Homo sapiens: one gene and its partners. The protein of the gene in region 2 purifies or fractionates together with the protein of the main gene of each other region. This does not show direct contact. Each region holds a gene or a part of one and is shown on either strand. Other genes may lie near its edges.

Region 1 (5,244 bases), on a different chromosome or scaffold from region 2:
GTCTGCTGAAAGGATAAGGTCTGAGATCCAGGACAGCAAGTGGGCAGAATAGCGAAGTGACATAGTGCTCCCTACATAGGAATGCCAAGTTCTGAAAGCTAGAGGCTCCTCTACTGAAAAGAGCCATGTGGAGTGTGAGGGAACTTGGATTGTAGACAAAAATAACGTGGAGCTGAAGCAGCCTGGTTTCCTTTGCCTACGGCTGCTGCAGCCTTTCAGTCAACTCAGAAGTGCACAGATATTCACCCAGACCTCTGGCTCTGGGCCCATAGAATCCAGCACATGTGGTCCCAGAGAGGCAAGTAAGAAGCCAGGTGAAAAGCATTGAATATTAGCAGATCATCACAGTCAGGAAGTAGGCTCATAGGTGTGTCCTTAGGAGAAGATGGTTTTACGTCAATGAATCAAATTGAAATAGTCTGGTTCTTCGTATTGGTGCTGCAACCCATCTGCTGTCATTTAAGAAATGAGATAAGTCTTTGGAAAGAACATAATCTATTAAAACAGTGGTTCTCAAACTTTAGCATGCATCTGAATCACCTACTAGGTCTTGTTAAAATTGATTGTTGGGAGACATCCCAGGGTTTCTGATTCAGTAGTTCTGGGGTGATGCCGAGAATTTGCATTTCTAACAGATTCCCAGGTGATGCTGATGCAGCTTGTTCAGGGACTACATTTTGAGACCTCCAGATACAAATGATTTCAACCTGCCTTTCTTCCTGACATCAGTTAATATTTTCAAATATTACAAATATGTGCCAATTTAATACACTTGTGGTCTAAACAAAATGCTTTCAATATTGTGTATGCAGCATAAGGCAGAAAATTGTATTAGTGTGAAATTTGAGTCATTTTTTCTTTAATATGAGAGCTAAGTGGCATATGTACATTGTATTTAACATATTGCCATGTGTCTTTCCAGGATCAGTCTGAGACAGAAGCCAATGTGAGTCTTGCAAGTTGGGATGTTGAGAAGACAGCCATCTTTGCTTTCAATATTTCCCACGTCAGTAACAAGGTTCGAATCCTAGAACTCCTTCCAGCTCTTACAACTCTGACGAATCACAACAGATACTTGATCGAATCTGGAAATGAAGATGGCTTCTTTAAAATCAACCAAAAGGAAGGGATCAGCTACCTCCACTTCACAAAGAAGAAGCCAGTGGCTGGAACCTATTCATTACAAATCAGTAGTACTCCACTTTATAAAAAGAAAGAACTTAACCAACTAGAAGACAAATATGACAAAGACTACCTCAGTGGTGAACTGGGTGATAATCTGAAGATGAAAATCCAGGTTTTGCTTCATTAATTCACCATCCAGAGACCAAATAATTAAAAGAAAAACAAATATAGATAGGTAGAACTATATTTTCCCCCAATCAGAATCATCATATCATAGGTACAATCTTTCACCAAGTAAATTTGTATAAATAAGCACTATTCTTTGTATTACCAAAGCAAGGTACAGGTGACTACCCTAGTTCAAAACAACCACTTTCTCAGGCTTCTCATGTGTGTAGCTAAGCTACCTTGTCATATGTGTTGATTCTTGAAAACTGGGACGTGTATTTCCATTGGGGGTTGGCCATTTATGCTGACATGCCATCCTTCCAGCAAACGTACGGGAATGTGCTTTCAATTGATGGACTACTCTATTTTTTGCAAATTTGTAAACTTTGCTTCTCCAAATACAAGTACTAGGTTGTCCATTTATGGTACCTATTTGGTGCTAGTAAATTTTCAAACTAGATTTATAAATGCACTGTAATATGTACACAACTTAGAAACCAAATTACAAGTATTCAGTTCCAATACTTCATTAATTTCAATCAACCAAAGTTAGTTCAGTAGCTTATCTCAGTTATGAGTATAATACATTACATGTAAATTAAGTGTGTGTATACTGTAATCGTGCTATTTTTTATCATTGAAACATTTATAAACTAGAATAATAATGCCCTTAATGTGAGGGTTTGTAATGGTGCTTATTAAGACCAAAGACTTGTTAAATGTATACACCAAGTGGTAATGAAATTTCGGTGACTGGCCCACACGTGCATAGAGGTCTGGGAGGACCAGGAAACAGCCTCAGTGGCCAGAGGATCACCAGTGCATCCTTCATCACAGCATGTGCAATATGCCAAGATTACCCTCGGTCATTCCTGTCAACAAGGGGTCAATGTCATAAATGTCACAATAAAACAATCTCTTCTTTTTTTTAGTTTACCCCTTGGCTTTGTGTTCTTGCATGGATTTGGGGTTGGAGGGGCCATTCCGGAGGCTAAATAAAGTCTCCTGGATTTAAATTATCCTGGGTCTCTTACTTATGGCTTATGAAAGTACCAAATGTATAACCACTAGAAGAAAATTTAACATATGAGTCGATCCCTTGTTTTATCCATTGAAAGTAGCAGAGTCTGGTGTCATTAACCTGACTTGCTTGTGAGAAATTTAGATTGTAGAGTCATTTCTGAAACATGACCTAATTCATCTTGTGACTTTTAAATAGTCTTAAATACCAAGTTCAGTCATTGTCTTAGAGCACATGAATTTCATTATAATAGATTTATCATGCCCCCCTCTCAAATATACACAGTTTTGGCAAGCCTTAGGTGTTCTGTTCCATTTTTTTTTCCCCTAAACATCTTTCGTTAGTCAATGCTCATCTAATTACAAAGGGATAATCCCAGACTGTATCCAATTGCTGTAACTTTTGGTTTCTTAATGTCATAATTTTTAAAGTCTGTTTTATTTTAAGTGCAATATTGAGTATTTAGCTGTTAGGCTCAATCCGTCGATATGAAATAATTTTTTAAATCCCTAAGGGCAGGAAAGCATTTCGTGGTAGTGAAAATAAGAGGAAATAAGATGGCATGAAGGTGGTGGGCGGAGAAACTAGGTAGGACACAGGAAAGTGCTCTCAAAAATCTTTGAAGAGCTCAGCTGAAAAAAATGGAGTAGATTTGGCTCATACTATTCCGGAAGGCAAAACCAGGGTCAGCTGATGTCAGCCCCAGTTTAATACACACGGTCCCAATTATAGAGCTACTCACTGAAAGAATGGGTTTCCTTGCATTGTGGTGAGCTCCCTGTCACAAGATAGAAGAGTTTCAGTCTAGGCTTAATGGCAACCATTGGACAAAGATGCTTTCTTCCACCTAACAGGCCATTAACATCTTAAAGGTATTTTTGTATCTCTAATTTTGTTTATAATAGGTGCTCAACAGAATGAGCTGAATGGCTGTTACAAAGGGGGTTTGTACCTTGGGTAAGAGATTAAAATATAACTCAAAATTTCCTTCTAACGCTGCACCTATGGAACCATGTGATAGAGGTGTATTAAAATTGTTATCGAAGAATATATAGCATATGGTAAACAACAGTTTGCATATGGAAAATGTCTTTGATAATTTAACCAGAACTGCATTATATTCAATAACGGATTTTCTTTATAACAAACAACAGGGGAAAATGGAGTTGGCACACAGTGGATCACTTTGATATTTTTAATAGTCCAAGTCTGGATTTTATTTATTCCTGAGCCAACAATTTTGAACAGCATATTTTCCATGTTTCTGACTGTAACAAAACATTTTCCTCATTGTTCCATTGTAAATATTCCTCTTGTTGGAACTCTTTTTAATCCTGAGATTTAAACCTGTACCTTTCAATTGTCTGTGACCTTTCAATTTCACTTTCAATAGTTGAAGAACTTGGCTTTGTAAATCTCTCAGAAGCTTGAAAATATCTTGTCTCTACCCCCTCAGCCCATTTCATTTGCCAATAATTATTTTGTAAGTAGGGTTGAAATGAACTCAGCTGGCCTTGTGAAATGTTTAAACTTGCACAAACAACTACATTTTTGTTCAACAAATAGCAGTTTACTCAGCCAAAATCACTTTGGATATTGCCATTACAAATACTGTTAAACTTCAGAAATCATGTCTGTAAATTAGATGAGCCAAAATAAAGGACAATTGGGTTGATGCTGCATTAGTATCCTTAAAAGTTATATACCCATAAATGTTAGGGATTTTAAAATTACCATCAACTTGGTCCACAGAATATATTTTATTCTGGTTTTAACTGTAGTTCTTAGAGAACTGTATTAGAAATGTAATTATTAGGAATGTAATTATTAAATGATTTAAGGACATTGTTTTTAAAGTTAGAAGATCATTACTGGCAGAAATATTAGTTTCACATTTATAGCTGAAGACAGATATTTACCCCTTGCCAATTTAAAATAACACTTTGTAAAAAAGAGAGAAGAAAAAAAAAACAATTTACTTCATTATGCTTTTTTTGAAACCCAGTATGAGCCTGACATTACGTATGAGTTAGGAAAGGATGATCTATATTATTCTGAGTGTTAGGGTTGGAGAGATAGAAAAGGGCTGTACACTTGACTTTGCAAATTTCCATGTATATTCATGACTGGTTTTATTCACAGGATTGGATCTCAGTTAAAGACATTCTCACAAATATCTGCATAAACATGAGGGTCTTGTACATTTGACATGCATTTGGCAAGACCTGACAAAAATCACAAAATCTGTTGTTTCAACTAACTGCTAATAAATCTAAAATGGTTTCTTTTTTTCAAACAAAGTCATAAACCTTGTTTTAGGACATAGGTTGCTTTGAATCCTTGATTCAAACCTGAATTATGGCTGGGCACTGTGGCTGATGCCTGTAATCCCAGCACTTTGGGAGGCCAAGGTGGGCAGATCACTTGATGTCAGGAGTTTGAGACCAGCCTAGCCAACATGGTGAAACCCCATCTCTACTGAAAACACAAAACGTAATCAGGCATGATGGTGCGCACCTGTAGTCCCAGCTACTCGAGGGGCTGAGGCAGGAGAATTACTTGAACCCAGGAGGCGGAGATTGCAGTGAGCTGAGATTACACCACTGCACTCCAGCCTGCATGGAAGAGTAAGACTCCATCTCAAAAGAAAAAGAAAAAAAAAATCTGAATTATAACTTCTACAAATGGATGTCAGTTTCATTTTTTACTGTTGGATGGTAGAAGGACTGAACCAAGTTATAGCAGGTAAGTGGATGCGATTTCTGGCTAGCTCCACCCTCTGCTATCTCTTCATTGTGATTTTTGATCTTTGTGACCATCCCCATTTCATAAATGAAGGCAAAATTATCCTCTCTGTGCTCCCCTGTGCCCCCTGTGGGTTGGTTATGGTGTCAGCTAGAAGGCATCAAGCCTTCCAAGTACTTCTGGAA
Region 2 (5,847 bases):
CGCTCCCTGCAGGAGACAGCGCCTTATGTATACCTTCCTTGCAGGATGCAGCACCTGCTGTATACCTTCCTTGCAGGATGCAGCACCTGCTGTATATACTCTCTACAGGATGCAGTGACTGCTGTATGCACTCCTCTGAAGGTGCCATATCTACTGTATACACTCCTTTGCAGGGCAGAGTCTACTCTATGCATTTCTACAAGATGCAGCACCTGCTGTATACCCTTCCTGCAGAGCATAATGCCTGCTGTGTGTGCTCCCTGTGGGCGCTGTGCTTTCTGTATACCTTCCCTGCGGGGCACAGGGCCTGCTGTCTGCACTCCCAGTGGAGCTCTGTGGACTGGACATCTGGGAATGGGGCACATCTGAGGAGGATACAATTGTCCTAATGACACATTGACACATGTCCTGAGCTGACTTCTTTCTTTCTTTCTTTCCTTTTTTTTTTTTTTTTTTTTTTTTGAGACGGAGTCTCGCCTGTCTCCCAGGCTGGAGTGCAGTGGCGTGATCTCGGCTCACTGCCACCTCTGCCTCCCGGGTTTAAGCGATTCTCGTGCCTCAGTCTTCCGAGTAGCTGGGATTACAGGCACTCACCGCCATGCCTGGCTAAGTTTTATATTTTTAGTAGATACTGGGTTTCACCATGTTGTCCAAGCTGGCTTCAAACTCCTGACCTCAGGTGATCCGCCTGCCTCGGCCTCCCACAGTGCTGGGATTCCAGGCATGAGGCGCCGCGCCCGGCCTGCCCTTCTCTCTTGACCCCTTCAGTGAGGGCCTTCTTGACATCCCCGCAACCACCACCCCCCAACCTGGGGCCATCAGTGGTGGGCCTGGGCTATTTTCTCCAATAGTCCAGGTCAGAAGGTGGGGGGTCATACATTCCAGGGGGCTGCCTTACCCGCTGGCCTGGGACTGGCTGGGTTGTTCACAGCTGTGCACACAGTAGGTGCTCAATAAATGGCATATGGGTGGCTCTGCTGACATGCTACAGGCTGGAGGGCAGACTGAGTTGGACCAGCAACACCCTGTATGTCCCCAGCAAACCTCTCTCCCTGTGGTCAGCGCTGTGGGACAGCAGGGTGGGCTTCCTGGAGGAGGGGGTGCTCAGACCGAGCCTGGGTGGAGCCCAGGGAGCAGGACAGTCCCTCCACCCCCTCCTTTAGTGCCCCAGTCCCTCAGCCCGCCCGCCAGGGGGCGCCGTGGGGCGACACCAGAAACTGGTGGAGCCCAGAACCCAGGGCCTGGTCTCATCCCTGCGTGGGTGGGCACGGGGCGGCTCACAGACGCCCGGCGGGAAAGGGTGGGGTGGGGGGAGTCCCGGGGTGCCCCCTCGCGTTGCCGGTCCGCGCAGAGCCGGATTCCAGATGGAAGGTTCGCGGTGGAGATCCCTGCCGGGCCCACTGCTGGGATGGGGAAACTGAGGCCGGAGAGGGTGTGGCCGCGGCTGTGAGGGAGAGGGACCGCCTGGACCCGGGTCTGGCTCTGAAGCCCCGCTGGCAGCCCCGGGGCCCGGCAGGGAGGGCGGGAGGCGGGGTGGGGCGCGTCCCCTGGTGACAGCAGCGCCCGGGAATGCGCCAGCTGGGAGGGTCTCTCCGCCCCCCGCGCGCGGCCCACGGGGCCGAGCCTCTCCCCAGTGCGCTGGGGCCCTGCGCTGGGGGTGACCGGGACCTGGGTCGGGGAACCCCCGGATGGGAGCCCAGGCGCGCCAGGGTCCCCATCCACGAGCAGGTCGACCCCCCGCGAGAGGGGTGAGGGGCAGGACCAGGGGAGGGGGCTGTGACCGGGGATGGGGACGCCGGTGGGACGCAATCCGGGCGTCGGCGGGGTAGGGGCAGCGCCCGGGACTCCCAGACCCAGGGCGGGGTGACCTCGGTTCGCGCACATTCCCGGGCCCTGAGCGCGGCGCCCGGAATAGCAGCCCCGGGGCAGAGGAGGGCGGTCAGTCCCCGCGCCGCGCCCCCGCCCGAGCCTGCCAAGGTCACCCGGACCCGGGCGCCCGACACCAGCCTGCGGCTCCGGGACCCCTGCGCTCGCGTCCGCCGGGCAGTCCCCTGCCGCAGATCCGCGCCCGCCGCGCGAGGGCGCCCGGGGCCGCCGCCCCTCCTGACCCGGGCCTGGGCGCGCCTGCGGAGGCCGCGGTGGGAGGGACCGTCCCAGGCTCCCCACCCCGCCCAGCACCTTGGGCCCCGCCGCTTCCGCTCGCCCTGGGGCCGCTCAGGGAGCCGGGACGCGCTGCCTGGGCTCCGCGCAGCCGGTAAGTCCATCTGCCTATCCTCCCACTTTCTCCGGGGGAAACTGAGGCCCAGAGGTGCGGCTTGCCTTGAGATCCCTCCGCCAGTCCGGGCTGCAGCCCACACGGGGAGGGGAGAGCCTTGATTCTGGGCAGGGCCCATTGAGGAGGGGGTAGGGTGGTCCTTGTAGCCCCCCACTTTTCACCACCTAGACCCCCACTCCTCAAACCAGGCTTAGAGTCCGGTGGGGGTGGTCAGAAGGTCAAGCCCCCTCCCCCTGTTTTTTTTGGTTGGTTGGTTGTTTTTGAGACTGAGTCTCACTATGTCGCCCAGGCTGGAGTGCATTGGCCCCATCTCGGCTCACTGCAACCTCCGCCTCCTGGGTTCAAGCGATTCTCCTGCCTTAGCCTCCCAAGTAGCTGGGATTACAGGTGTGCACCACCACACCGGGCTAATTTTTGTGTTTTAGTACAGATGGGGTTTTACCATGTTGGTCAGGCTGGTCCCAAACTTCTGACCTCAGGTGATCCGCCTGTCTTGGCCTCCCAAAGTGCTGGGATTACAGGCGTGAGCCACCGCACCTGGCCCCCCTCCCCTTGTTTTAAGTTTCTGGTGCAGACTTCTTCCTGCTTCCTGGGCCAGCCCAGGCTCTAGGCTCAGAGAGGGGCACGGATGCAGCAGACCACACAGCTGTCTCAGTACCTAGAGATACCCAGGACCCTAGACCCTTGGTGCCTCAGAAGTCCAAATGCTGGAGCCAGGGAAACAGGGTCCAGGTGGGACCCAGCCTCTTCCCCAGCTGGTGCCCGGGCCGGGGCTCACCCACCTGCCTTCAGGCTCTGCTGGCAGCAGGACGCCCTGGCTCACTTGGCGGCTGCTTCCCTTCCCCCCTCTTTCCCCCTGCAGGCTGGGGTCATGAGGAGGGTGTGGATGGCAAGTGACTTCATCCCTGCCCTGACAGGATGGAGAAACTAAGGCCCAGAGAGGCAGTCAGCCTCCTCCCCTTCCCTGCTCCAGCCTCAGCAGTGGCCCCTTCCCTCCACGGGCTGCCCCGGAGCTCAGTCCCACCCCCTCCGCCGATGAGGCCATGAGGCACCGAACGGACCTGGGCCAGGTCACCCCCTCCCTGTCCCATCCCCAATCCGGGGGACTCCCTGCTGTCTGGGAGCTGAGGGAGCCCTGGGGCCGGGGTGCAGCTGAGGGCCTCTTCTAGGGACCCAACTCCTGATCCAGCCCCTGCCGGCCGCACCTTCCGCAGGGTGTCACAGAATCATGGACTGAGTCCACTTGGCCCCCACTGCACAGATGGGGAAACTGAGGCCTGGGAGAGTGGAGTGGCTGGCCTCAGGCCACACGGAAAGGTAGAAGCAGTGATGGTGGGGAGGGCGGGGAGGGGGCCCCAGCCCTAGGAGGCACCTGTGTACTATTTTTGAATGATCCCTCCAATCATCAAGCATCGATTAAGCACCTACTGTCTGCATTATAGCACAATACACATATCAATAATATTGTAGGCTGGGTGCAGTGGCTCATGCCTATAATCCTAGCACTTTGGGAGGCCAAAGCAGGTGGATCACTTCAGGTCAGAAGGTTGAGACCAACCTGGCCAAGATGGTGAAACCCTGTCTCCACTAAAACGGCAAAAATTAGTCCGGCGTGGTGGCAGGCACCTGTAATCCTAGCTTCTCGGGATGCTGAGGCAGGAGAATTACTTGAACCGGGGAGGGTTGCAGTGAGCCGAGATCGCACCCCTGCACTCCAGCCTGGGCGACAGAGCGAGACTCCGTCTCAAAAACAAACTAACTAACAACAATAATAATTGCAGATGACATTCTGAGTTCTTCCTCTCCATACCGGGCTCCACGTCTCCTGTCTTCTTTACCTGATCCACAGGACCCCTCAACTTTCCTGTAAGGGAGGCTCTATTACCCCGTTTTTCAGAGACGAGAGGTAGGGCTCAGAGAGGTTTAGTTACTTTCCAAGATCACACAGCCAGTCAGGGCAGAGCCGGGACACAACCCTGTGTCTCTGGCGGTGGCTCTATGGACTCGGCCCCTCTGTTCCCCAGGCCCCACCTCTTCCAGAACCTCCTGCTCTTCCTGTGGGCCCTGCTGAACTGTGGTTTGGGGGTCAGTGCTCAGGTAAGGGGGGGCATGAGCCCAGGGGGTGGCGAGTGGGAATGGGGACCCAGTCAGCAGTGTGGGGTCACCAGCGTCCCCCTACAAGGCTGACCGTGCCTCTGTCTCCCCAAGTAGGGTCCGGGCGAGTGGACCCCGTGGGTGTCCTGGACCCGCTGCTCCAGCTCCTGCGGGCGTGGCGTCTCTGTGCGCAGCCGGCGCTGCCTCCGGTGAGCGGGGCCCGGAGGGGGTCCCTGCCCCTCCTCCCCCGCCGGCCCAGCCCGGCCCCTGGCCGCACCCTCGGCCTGCCCACACATGCTGTGCCCTTTAATCCCCCTGATCCCGCTGGAATGCGGGTGGGGTTGGCGGGGGCGGAGGGTGGAAGGCCAGCCCTGGGAGGGGGTCCCTGGGGGTTCTCGCCACACTCTGTCTCCCTTCAGGCTTCCTGGGGAAGAACCGTGCTGGGGAGACTCCCATGAGTACCGCCTCTGCCAGTTGCCAGTAAGCCCTGCCCACCTCCCAGACCACTCTCCCACCCCAGACTGCCTGAAGCCCACCACCTGCCCCTTGGGGTTGTCCCAGCCTCTGGCTCACCTATCTCTGTCCCTAGGACTGCCCCCCAGGGGCTGTGCCCTTCCGAGACCTACAGTGTGCCCTGTACAATGGCCGCCCTGTCCTGGGCACCCAGAAGACCTACCAGTGGGTGCCCTTCCATGGGGGTGAGTAGTCTGGTCTCCTGTGGTCAGAATTGGTCCAGAGCGAACAACTCATTAGTCTCAGGGAGAGGGTCTTGGAGGGTTGCAAAGAGAAGAGGGTATTAGTGCTAGGGCTTTGAAGGATATGTAGGAGTTAGTGAAACAGAAACAGCATATGTTAGGCGTGAAACAGGGGCAGAGGGAAGCAGGGTTCATTCTGCACAGGGCTGAACACCCAACTAAGGATTGACTTAGAGCTGTATCCAGAGGCCAACACTTCTCAAACTTATCCCAGTAGCAGGAAATGTTGCTGCATTGAGCTGAAAATAGCGAGTTATATAACTACGTGCCCGGGTCAGTGCGCCTCCAGATTTCAGGGAGACAGGCAGCTTCACACGCCATGGGGAAGGCAGACACAGATATAAGAAAAGCCTAGAATGGACAAAGTGCCATCCATCAACCTCATTTCCTTCCTTCCTTCCCTTTCTTCCTTCCCTTCCTTCCCTTTCTCCCTTCCCTTCCTTCCTCCCTCCCTCCCTCCCTCCCTCCCTTCCTTCCTTCCATCAATCTGAGAATTGGAGGAAACCTGCTGTGATCCCACCCCCGCAGAGGCCCACTAGGGCCAGCCCAGGATCCGTTCCAGGCAGGGTCCACCAGCCAGGCTCAGGGAAATGGGAGCCAGAAGGAGCTGGAGAAGGAGGAGTGGAGATCAGGGCTGTCGGCCTTTGTGTTTGATCAGACAGCTCATTTTGCCCCACTTCCAGGCAGAAGGGGAAACTGAGGCCCAGGGAGGACCAGCGACAC
Region 3 (4,847 bases), on a different chromosome or scaffold from region 2:
CATAAAATTAAATAGAAACATTCCTACAATTCTCAACTTTAAAACTCCATAGTTACAAATTTAAGATCATTGATTTGGGGAATTAAAATGGCACTTTCTTTGTGAGAAGAAGCGAAAGGCTTGGAGTTGAGAGACGTGTCTGTATTTAAATCAAAACTCTTAAGATACTTATTGTGGAACCTCCTGCAGAGTATGTATCCTTTCTGAAACTAATTTCTCATGTATAAAATAGGAATAATAAATAATTACAGTGACTAATTCATATGGGTGCAATGACAATTAGGGAGATTATACATATAAATTATAATTTGAAGATTTCCAGACAATTAGAAACCATTAAGTTGAGCATCTGTGGTCTTTCTATCTGTTCTCAATACTCGGTATATATTGATGGATGAAATATACAATATCCCTGACCTGATAGCACTTGGAATATAGTATGCAGTTTAAGTTTTATATAATACTGTTTTCAGGAGTTTTACTCACTTGTATAGCAGTGAGCGTCAGAAGCATTTTTCATCTTGCAAATTAGAATTCTTTTAAATTTCCATTGATTTGGTTAATTATGTGTAAGAATACTTCTTATAGTCCCTATTTTATTTCATAATGCATTGTTTTTGATGACTCAAATTTCACATTCCAATAGACACAGTAAAAAAAAAAAAGACAAAATTCGCATCTCATTCATTATACATTGTTTACCTATTTCCCCTCTACAACATTATTTTTGCATGTCTATACCTTTGTGCAATCTGTAATTCCTTTTTCAATTTGTACTTCTCTTTTTTTTTAATCTTTATGTATTGGATGTTTTTTAAAGCTCTGCATATTAAAAGAAAAAGTATTTAAATATCTAAATGGACATTTTGAATCTTATAATGATTTACTTGCCTTCTGATATCAGAGCAGTAAAAAGTTAATGAGAGTAATAGAAATAACAATGATAATAATGGTAAAGAATGCCTAGATCCACTCCTAGCAGAAGCTGGCATTGCTATCAAATAAATATAATTGAAATCAAAATGTCTGGTTGTGAATAATGTAAAATATATTTGTTTGTGAAAGTAATACAAAATGTTATTTTGAAGGAATTTGAGAAATTTAAGAGTGCATTGCTTTGTTTATATTTTAAAGCTGACTTTAAAACCATATGTGGAAATATTCCTGGATTCACCTTTGACATTCACACAGGAAAAGCTGTTGGTGAGTTTTTCCAGATTATGTTTGTTTTAATACATATGTGTAGCATTCTGTAAAAATCTATTCTATGTTTTTAAAATTCAAGAGTACCACAAAATATAATAATCTGGGATCCAATCTAATATAGTTAGATAAGAGAGAAATAACAGGCTTACAGACTCTAACCAAGTATTAATAATGATACTCCATCAGCGTAGTCTGGTGATTGGGTTATGGTAGTTATGTGACTCTCTCGATATTTGTCACATCCACCAAGCTAAAGCTTCAGTTGTCCTTGTCATGCACATTGTATTACATGACTCTAAATAATCTACCTTATTTTAACCTTTAGTTGCTATTTTCTTAAGTACATTTTTTAATTTTTGGTGTATTTTTGCAGTATCCCTTTTTACTGGTCTAAATATGAATGTGCAGACTTATTTTTCATATTAATTAATTCCTTCTAAATGTACATTGTGTTGCTCACTCTAGCTTCCTTCCTCAAAGATTTGATAAGCAATATAATTTTTTTTTTTGAGATGGAGTTTTGCTCTTGTTGCCCAGGCTGGAGTGCAATGGCGCGATCTCAGCTCACTGTAACCTCTGTCTCCTAGGTTCAAGTGATTCTCCTGCCTCAGCCTCCTGAGTAGCTGGGATTACAGGCACCCACCACCACACCCGGCTAATTTTTTGTATTTTTAGTAGAGATGGAAGTTTCACCATGTTGGTCAGGCTGGTCTAGAACTCCTGACCTCAGGTGATCCACCCTCCTCAGCCTCCCAAAGTGCTGGGATTACAGGCGTGAGCCACCACACCTGGCCTAAGCAATATAATTTTAAGTCTCCATTATGAATATATGATAAAATAAAATACATACAATGATGAAAACATAGCTTTTTAAACAAATGAATAGCAGCACTTAGGGTAACCTGAAGAAGGGGTTTGATTGCCTAGAAAGTTCATTTGCTATATTGACTCTGAAATTACTTGGTATATTTTATCAGCTACTTAGATTTTTTCCATCACTGTTTCTATTTTCTGGTATATATGTTTTTATAAACCAAAAAAATTAGCTATACTAGTATATAATAGATTTTTGTGACACTGAATATTTGTACTCATCCCAGGGTACATGTAGCATTATTCAAAGTTATATGGTAAGTATATTAAACAGAACAACATATATTTGACCAAATCTGTTCCATTTCAGACATTGATGAATGTAAAGAGATTCCAGGCATTTGTGCAAATGGTGTGTGCATTAACCAGATTGGCAGTTTCCGCTGTGAATGCCCTACAGGATTCAGTTACAATGACCTGCTGTTGGTTTGTGAAGGTAATCTGAATAAAGTATGTCCTTTATCCAGTATAATTTGGTATACATATATAGCATTTAGATGGTTTCTGATTTTTACTATTTCTTCTACAATTTTTCAAGAGTTGATCATCAAAGTGTGACGTGAATGTAATGCTAATACAATACTAAAAAGGACTCTTTAAAATGGAATTGTTGCTCTTTCAGATATAGATGAGTGCAGCAATGGTGATAATCTCTGCCAGCGGAATGCAGACTGCATCAATAGTCCTGGTAGTTACCGCTGTGAATGTGCCGCGGGTTTCAAACTTTCACCCAATGGGGCCTGTGTAGGTAAGAAAGAGGCTGACTCATTCTTTGGCACTGAGCACAAGATTCCTTAGATTTCCTATCAAAAAATACTTCAAGAATAATTTGGGAAAGATTTTCTCACTTAACCTGTTCATTTATAGTGAACCTATTTCACCATATCTTTTAGATGATTTTGTTAAGAAAATAGATCTCTTCAATGGATTTCCCCAGGATTGGACCTAAAATAAAATAATATCCTTCAGATACCAATAAACATAAAAAAATTTGCATGATTAAAAAAAGAGGGTTGGATACTTTGAAGTCCTGCTCATTTTGATTCAGCTGTTGTTATGGTTCATTTTCAGCCTGCCTATAATAATTAATAGCAGATTAGAGAAACACAACTGTGAAAAATGAAGAAATCTTAATAAAAATCAGATACATGTAACATTTATTTTTTTCTGTTTTAGATCGCAATGAATGTTTAGAAATTCCTAACGTTTGCAGTCATGGCTTGTGTGTTGATCTGCAAGGAAGTTACCAGTGCATCTGCCACAATGGCTTTAAGGCTTCTCAGGACCAGACCATGTGCATGGGTAAGAAGGGCATGTGGCTCCAGGGAGTGAAGTGGGGCTGGGGTTCCAGAACAGATCACAGTTCCATCAAGTGCCATGAGTAACTACTATGTCTCTGTCAGAAACAATCTTGCAAAAAATTAACTAGGTCAAACTATTTAAGTCTTGATTCAATATAAAATTTGCAAGCAGGGACATACTGCAATATATAAAATTTGCAAGCAGGGACATACTGCGATATGTTCGTCAGTTCAGTGATTCACAGCTTTTTCTCCAGAAGATGTTCACATGGCTTGACAAGAAAAAACCCTCTGAGCCACTTGGGCTTGTGTGGAACTTACCATAGCACCCGCTGCCCTTTACTTTCATGTTTCTACTCAAGACACCATTTTGGAATGCAAGAGAGTAGTAAGAGTGACAGCATTAAACTTAATAAATTTATACACATATGCACATACTTTTTTAAAACAAATTGTTGAATAGTGGGATTTATGTACATATTTTGTGTTTTATCCCTTAAAAATAGCTTTAGGAGCAAATATAGCCAAACTCTTTAAAAATTCCCAGTAGCTAATGTAATGGGTAGCCAAGTGGTAATAGAGCTTAGTGAGTACTTGCTGAGCTGATGATTAATAGGTTTTCAAAGACAGATGGGCTGGATGCCATGAAGCTGGGACTGAGTATAACCCCTTAAGTCTGATGTCAGCAGTTGGCTCTGCCTCTGCTGAAGAGTTTTCTTTCTGTGCTTTGCACTTGAAAGGGGAAAATTAAATTTAAAACTTGGCTACTTGTAATTAGCATTTTCTCAGTGTAGAAAAGGCTAGGGCTGTTCAGCTACTCTTGATATTCAAGATATTATCTATGTGAATATTAAAATCAGATTTCAGTACTGCAGGACTGGTTTCCTTCATGACACATCCATACAACAGGGAATACCTGGAGTATGTCTCCAGGTTCATCCATTGCCTCCTAAAGCCCTCCCTTTGGACTTCTCCTATAATGGCAGGGAAAATTCTCTAGGTGATGTTTATACAAAGGAATATACAGGATCTGGTCTTATTTGCATGAACTCCCTAAGAATGCTTGTTTATACATGCTTCTTCTTGCTGTACTCCCAGAGAGAGTATGATTTACCAAAAAAAAATATGAGATTTATGATTCAGAATTTCGTATGGGGAAAATCTGTCCACTCATAACAATTCTTCCATGATAAAAGCTAGTCAGATTCTTCAGTAAGACCTCCCTTATACAGAGCTTCCTTCCTAAAGAACAATACCAGCCCCCACCCTTTTTTTGGTGTGGTAGAGTTTCAGCAGCCTGGAATTCATAGTTGGGGAGTCTGCTGTCTCATATGATGAATGACCTTTCTAAATATTTTCTTAATTCAGTTTTTTTGAAGGCTAATAGTGAATTCTAATAAACCTCAATTTGGATTTCATTACTTCATACAATTAAGTAAACTAAAGTTTGTCTTTGTTTTTCTGCTC

What was found.
Region 1: the proteins of ADAMTSL5 (region 2) and FBN1 purify together in Homo sapiens (pull-down; one study listed by IntAct). This does not show direct contact.
Region 3: the proteins of ADAMTSL5 (region 2) and FBN2 purify together in Homo sapiens (pull-down; one study listed by IntAct). This does not show direct contact.

What each region holds. Positions count from the first base shown.
Region 1 is NC_000015.10:48,407,058-48,412,301, reverse strand, and holds the end of FBN1 (fibrillin-1 isoform a preproprotein), read left to right. Parts: intron 1-922; coding exon 923-1,312; 3' UTR 1,313-3,989; downstream 3,990-5,244.
Region 2 is NC_000019.10:1,509,370-1,515,216, reverse strand, and holds the start of ADAMTSL5 (ADAMTS-like protein 5 isoform 2 precursor), read left to right. Parts: upstream 1-2,197; 5' UTR 2,198-2,254; intron 2,255-3,489; exon of another isoform or gene 3,490-3,536; coding exon of another isoform or gene 3,537-3,592; intron 3,593-4,056; 5' UTR 4,057-4,273; coding exon 4,274-4,372; intron 4,373-4,483; exon of another isoform or gene 4,484-4,486; coding exon 4,487-4,578; exon of another isoform or gene 4,579-4,663; coding exon of another isoform or gene 4,664-4,788; coding exon 4,789-4,849; intron 4,850-4,958; coding exon 4,959-5,067; intron 5,068-5,847. UniProt on the Homo sapiens protein: May play a role in modulation of fibrillin microfibrils in the extracellular matrix (ECM).
Region 3 is NC_000005.10:128,303,491-128,308,337, reverse strand, and holds part of FBN2 (fibrillin-2 precursor), read left to right. Parts: intron 1-1,134; coding exon 1,135-1,203; intron 1,204-2,389; coding exon 2,390-2,515; intron 2,516-2,701; coding exon 2,702-2,827; intron 2,828-3,255; coding exon 3,256-3,381; intron 3,382-4,847.